Homo sapiens: one gene and its partner. The protein of the gene in region 1 purifies or fractionates together with the protein of each later gene. This does not show direct contact. Each region holds a gene or a part of one and is shown in the gene's direction. Other genes may lie near its edges.

Region 1 (4,082 bases):
AGAAATAAAAACAACAACAACAACCAATAATTGAAAAACTAATTTTATACTTTTTGGCATACTCATTGTACACTTGTAATAAAAACTGGGCTTGTAGTTTTTGTCTCTTTTCTTATTTGCTAGCAGGTTTTGATTTGTATTTTACAGAAATAATGGTCCATGTCAGATTGGAAATAATAAAAACTTGTCTTTTACCCTTGATAGTTTGAGAAAAAAGTAATTCAGTGGGGTTAGATATGGCATCCGAGAGATGATTCGGGAAAGGTGGGCCAGGGCCATGTTTATGTGGACCCTCCAATGCCTCAGAGTTCACACTTGTTTCAGTGGGCAACAGGACTAGTAAGGTTTAGAGGGACTGTTAACCGAAGGTGAGTGGACTTTGCACATTTTATGGTATTTTTTTTTTCCCAGTAGGCATGTGCTTATTCTTTCTTTTCTTTTCTAATTAAAAGTTCTGTTTGGTTTTTTTAGTTAAGAGGAGAGACTGGAACTGCTCAGTGTTTCACAAAGATAACTGTTTGTATTTGATAAGAGTTTCGTTAAACAAAGGAATTTGCACTTATCAAAACATAAAGCATTGAAAACACTGAGCACATACTCTGTGACCAGAATGCGTGTGACTTGTTGAGATAAGCCACACCGGGTAATCAGATGAGTCTCCTTTCTTCTTGGGCACCCTCATATAATTCAGGCACAAACGAAAGAGAAAACGCTTTTTCTGATCTCTCAGTTCGGGTCATCTCTGCCTTCCATCATCACCGCCTAACAATCCTACACCTGGCAGGGTGGGAAAACGGTTTAATAATCTCTTCCCTTTGGGAGGCGTTTGACAGCTCAGAAAGCATGGCCTTTACTCAGGCTCAGAGACACACAAAAACCTTTCACGTTTTCCTTTCAGCTTCGCAGCCCCGTCCTTCTCCACCTGCACGGGCACCCACTGAAGCACAGGACCCTTCTGCCAAGCCATGAGCCTTCTCAGGCCCCTGCCGCCCGCCTCGCCTGAGGCTGCGCTTCTGAAAAGCACGCGGCCCTGGCCTGCGCACCACCCAGTCTGAAGGCGACGCCCCTGCACGAAGGAGTCAGGCCTAGGGGCTCGGGACCCAGGGCGACACTCAATTTTCTAACAGGAGCCACAGCCCAGAAGCTGAGAAGCCTTCCGGCCGATCTGTGGCCCTGAGGTCGCCCTTGGAGGGCGAGTGAGAACCCCCCAGGCGTTCCGGAGGTGGCCCCCAGCCCGAACCCGGCGCCCGCCCCGGCTTCCCGAGTCAGGTCTTTGCCCCGCCTCTCGGCCCCGCGGCCTGGCCGGCAAGCAGGGCTGCAGTCACGGGGCGGCGCGGAGGGCCCCAGCCCAGTCAGGGGTGTGGCCGCCGCCACCGTAAGGCTAGGCCGCGAGCTTAGTCCTGGGAGCCGCCTCCGTCGCCGCCGTCAGAGCCGCCCTATCAGGTGTGTTTGCAGCCGAACTGGCAGTGCCCGCGGGCGGCTGGGCCGAGGCCTTGGCTCCTACCCGCGGGGGTCGGGCGGGCTGAGGCTGGAGCAGGCCAGGGGCGGGGGCAGAGGGGGACGGACTTCCAGCATCGCTCATTCGGGGGCGTGACGGGAGGACCTGGCTGGGGAGCGGCGGGTTGGGAGCCTGTGGCTGCCCCTTCGGTGACAGTGGAGTCACCGAGCCTAGAAATGGGGAAGCTGTGACGTGGGGGTGGTGGAGGGTGCTGCGGGACAGCAGCGAGCACGGCCCTCAGCCGTCCTTCCCAACACGGTTTCACTTCCCCTCAGCTCCAGGGCTCAGCCCCAAGCCGCCCCCTTCATCCCCCATCTGCAAACAATCCTGGTCCCCCTGAGCCTCCAATATGCCTTATGCAGTTCTTTTGGGGTTCCTTTCGCATTTTACCGTGTACTTTCGCTTTTGATGCGTCTAGTTTCTGCTACTGGACTCTCCTAGAATCGAAGTTCCATGAGGGCAAAGTCCCATCTGACTTAGGACTCAGAGCTACTCAATAAGTAATTGAATGAGTACCTATGCCGTAGAACTGAGTGAATTAACAAATGAGTAAGTGAATAAATGAGTGCATACGAGATACAGCTGAATCAATCAGTGCATGAGTGAAAATAAAGATGTATGAAGTGGAAGCAGTGGAGACGCAGGCTTACAACTCCTGTTTTTTGATAGCTTTCCAAAAAGTTGTGTGAATGTCGCACTTTTGCAAATGGAGGCATTCTGATTGGGACCACTTAAAAAGAGTTCTATGCTGTTCAAATGGTCTCTGGAAACGCCCCCTGGTATTTCCATTTTTGTTGGACTTGGCTATATGTGTTTGCTTAAAACAAAATATGCCTAGGTTTTTTCTTGCTTGTGTTTTGTTCACTTCTACTTTGGACGTTTAAAGAATCATTGTCACTATAATATTATTTCATGTATTTCTTAAAGATAAGGGTGACTCTGAAGGCAGAACCATATGACTCTGACTTGTTTGTAAAACCAGGCTTTTCTTTTGAATTCAGAGTTGTTAAGAATCTTGTCTGTTTTCCTGAGACAGGTGCTGGCTGATTTGCAGGTGACTGAAGAAGGCTACATAAGGCCCAGAAAGACGCTTATCTGTTTGTAAACAAATAGGCTTAGCACATAGCTTTAATACAGTTGGTCACTGCAGCCGTTCTTACTTGCCAGGTCCAGGTTCCAGAAGAGCTGGATGACCTTGGACTTGCCACTTGATCTCTTTAGGTTTTAATTTCTTAATCTCCAAAATGAAGATGTTTAGCTAGGAACCCTGCCTGAGTTAAACCTCTGGGATTCTTTTGTATCAGGGTTAGAAGGTGAAATTACAGATGATTTCATGGAGTTCTGCTTACTTCACCTCCCATAGCATTTTGTCTCTGCTCTCTTCTTTGCTGTTTACAGCTCATTTCCTTTCTTCTCCACATCTGCAACAAGAAAGCCTGGGAGCTCAAGATAAGTGTAATAAACCCTAGGCTGGTGGGGAGAAAGGAGGGTAAGATTTTCTTCTACATTGTCACAGGCTCCTGGTCCTGGGTCTGACTTTTTTCCAGTGCAACCCAGTCTGACAATGCCATATATTCCCAGTATATCTGGGGAACTGCATCACTATTTCTTCGCATGCATTTGAGATTAGTTATCATAGATCACATTTTGGAGCTGGAAGGACCTTGGAGATTTTTTAAAGGCACTTCAAAAGTCATTATACATACATATTTAAATATTTTTGCATGCTACATTTAACAAACACAAAGTTCCAAATGTGTTAAGTAAAATGAAATTAATGTTACCTACTTCAGTGAATTCAAGTTTATAAGGAGAAGTGGAATACACATGTTGCTTGGTGAAAAGGGCCAACTTTCTCACACTGTTTTCCCAATGAGGTCATGTGTCATACAGGCATGGAATGTTACAAAGCTGATATTTATGGGGCACTGACCATACACCAGGCACTGTTATATTTAACCTTTTTACTTATATTGCCCCATTTAATCATCACTATATATCTAAGAGCTAGATACTATGGTAAGTCCTATTTGATCTTCTTAACTAGAAACAGTACATGGAAAATGGGAGAGTTAGGACTCAAAACTCAAGCAGATGGAAACAGGGTTTCTCCCAGAAACAAGACAATCCTGCCAGGAAAAACTGTGTGACTTTGAAGAATGTGGTCTCTGTGTGTGTTCAAGCATATATACAAACCCTGGGTTATTTGGGTAAATGAATTTAGAATGAGAGCACAGGGTGAAATGATGAAGACTGAATTATAGGGGAGTTGGTTGTTTTATCATTTTGAAAATTATTGAATTCCATTGAGATTCCAGGAGACTCTGATACTTTGACCTAGGTGCCCATGCATCTTAATTTTAAATGTGTTCAGACTTACCAATTTAGGGAATATAAAATGAGTGACATCGACAGCTGCCATCAGTGAATGGCACTTAAGGGCTTTGAACCATGAGTGCTAAGCAGTGTTGTTTCTTGGACTAGCTTTGTGCCCTTGGTAAGGCACTGCCTCCCAACCTCTTTCTTTATAAGACCAACAACCCCTAGTATAGACAAAGAACAATGCCTACATCTGTGTAATCCA
Region 2 (2,619 bases), on another chromosome or scaffold:
GCTTGATATCCTTTAAAATTATTTTCATTGATGGAACTGGAGTTGTTGGAAAAACATAGATTTAAAATGATTTTTGATAGCTGACATTGTGATGTTGATGTATCACATCAGTAATAGGACCAGCTTTGAATTTCTGACATTGGTGTGGGGATACAGTCTGTAAATGTTTATTGAGAACATCTTGCACACAATTTGAATTATGTAGAATGTCAATCAAGTTTTTGTATATTTAAAAGTTGGACATCAATTTTTTCCCCTGATTTCATCAAGTTATCTCTGCCAAGTGCTCTTGATAATTTCTTCAGATTTTTGGAAAAAAACACTATATAAATGCAATCCATGCTTTTTTTAAAGAACAACATTGCCAGAGTATGCTTGTTCTAACAATATAGATATATAAACCTTAAAAATAATAAAATATCTCACCCAAGACTTAAAGGAAGAATTCTCTGAAGGGATAAAGATTACTAAAAAAAAAAAAAAAAAAAAAAAATTAATGGGGTGCCTTTTTGTTATAGTTTCTATTTTCTGTTTTGTAGGACAAGCTGCATTTTCTGTAAATATAGGTCTGGACTAAAGGATACATAAAGAATGCACAAAATGTCAACATCAGCAGAGATGCCCAGATCTATTTATCTCTAAGTATATTTGAAGTGATTGCTGTTTATATGTTGTCATTTTAAAATTGTGTGTCAGTAAAGCTACCTGTAAAATTTCAGTCCAAAAAAATAAAGCTCTCAGGGAGACATGAATAAAATCAATGAACATTAGAAAATAAAATATAGATGCTTACCATTAACCTACCAACTCTTAATATCCTTAAATTATGTGATATATAAAGAGGACTGTTACTTTTTTACTTTTTTTTTTTTTTTTTTTTTTTTTTGGCTTTGCTTTATTTATTTGTAGTTGGGGGCTAACGTTTTCTCTTTTCTTTCTATTGATCCTGTTGTGGTTGGGTTTCCTGTGGAGAGAGTAGTTTGTCCTGTTGCACTAGAACATTATTTACTCACTAAATTGAGTTTTTCAGTCAATTAACAAATATTTATTAAGTTCCTACTATGTACCAGGCATAGTAGGGCTACAATGGTAAGCAAGACAGAGTCCCTGCCCCCAAAGAGCTTATATTCTAATGGGGATATTAAGGGATGAATAGAATACCAATGTGTGCACTGTACAGGAATCATACTATTTAAAAATAATTTGTATAAACTATAATGCTTAGCACAGATGGCGAGTTATCTGTGCTATGTGAAAGCTGTGAAATAGTGCTCTAAGAGTTGTCAAGAGCTGTGGTTTTACATCTTTTCCTCATTGCAAATTTAGTGACTTTCTACACACTATATGGAAATAAATGACTAGCAAATAAAACAGTCATAAATACAAAGCAGAGGTTGCACTCCCCCAATCCCGAGTTAACCCAGGTCTGCAATAACACCATGTTAAAGGTGCAGATAGAGACTTGGCTCAAAAAGGCTTGGAGATGAGGAAGATTGGAATATAATGATGGTTTTGTCTGTTCCTTAACTAAAGTGCCTCTATGTATATTCTTTTCTATTTGTAGCAGGATAAATTTGGTCTGGCTCAGTTTTGGAACTGTATTTTGAAAATGGCTTTGTCTTACAGTTTAAGGAATAGACAGGTGGAGGGAAAGTCACATAAAGGAGCAAGTTTGTGTAGCTGTCCCTCTTGCCCCTTTTAATCATCCTCCTTTGATATGGCCATCCTGGTGGGCCTCCTTTGCCATTTCCATTTTTGGTTTCTTTCCCTGAAAACTGTGTGCAGGTAATTCCATGTGCCATTGTTGAAAAGAAAAAAAAAAAACAAAAAAAAAACCTACTTTTTAGATTGGTGCTGGTGTAAGTAGCCACTTTTCTCTCTTGGGTGTGTATTTTAAACTTTTTTTGTTTTTTTAAATTAATGCCAAAAAGAAAATGCATAATTTGTAAACTTAATTATATGTCTTATATCTTATTAGCTTAGTAGTTGGAACCACTTAGTCTTTAGGTGCAAGACTGTTGTTAGATAGTACTGAGAAAAAAAAAGTATGTGTTATGAGACTGTACATGTTTTTTTAAAAATAGCAATATGCAATAAAGAGATGAATTCATTGGGTGTACATATATGCTTTCTATGAATTATTAAAACAGTGTCATCAAACTGCTTTGCAGTTTCCACCATTGAATTTCAATTTTGCAAATTGTTCACTGAATCGGAAATATATACCTGTTTTTAAACTTGTACTTACTGGACCTAGAAGAATATAGTTTTCTATTATGGCAGCATTCAGTATGTTCAGGTTATCATATGCCACCTCTTTCTATACTTGGTTTATGTATGAGTTATACAATTTCTTGTTATAACTCATGTATGGTAGGGCTACTGGTGAAATTATTCAACTAGAGTAGAGAAAATAATCTCTAGTCTCTAGAATCAAAGCCTTTTTGTTTTGAGGCATGTTTTTCTTATTAAAAATTAACTTGATATGGGTCAGTATGGGAAATGGCACCCATACAGATCAAGAAATTTGTTTATCAGTATCCTCTGAAAGTTGAAGCTTTCCCTTTGTCCTACATCACATTTGCTGCCTAGCCACCCTTAGCTCAATTTAAGTTCACG

The links. Proteins that work in one complex are often made in the same cells at the same time.
Region 2: the proteins of CPQ (region 1) and DAAM1 purify together in Homo sapiens (affinity purification with mass spectrometry; one large-scale study listed by BioGRID and IntAct). This does not show direct contact.

What each region holds. Positions count from the first base shown.
Region 1 is NC_000008.11:96,643,960-96,648,041, forward strand, and holds the start of CPQ (carboxypeptidase Q preproprotein), read left to right. Parts: upstream 1-1,282; 5' UTR 1,283-1,443; intron 1,444-4,082. UniProt on the Homo sapiens protein: Carboxypeptidase that may play an important role in the hydrolysis of circulating peptides. Catalyzes the hydrolysis of dipeptides with unsubstituted terminals into amino acids.
Region 2 is NC_000014.9:59,369,285-59,371,903, forward strand, and holds the end of DAAM1 (disheveled-associated activator of morphogenesis 1), read left to right. Parts: 3' UTR 1-2,119; downstream 2,120-2,619. UniProt on the Homo sapiens protein: Binds to disheveled (Dvl) and Rho, and mediates Wnt-induced Dvl-Rho complex formation. May play a role as a scaffolding protein to recruit Rho-GDP and Rho-GEF, thereby enhancing Rho-GTP formation. Can direct nucleation and elongation of new actin filaments.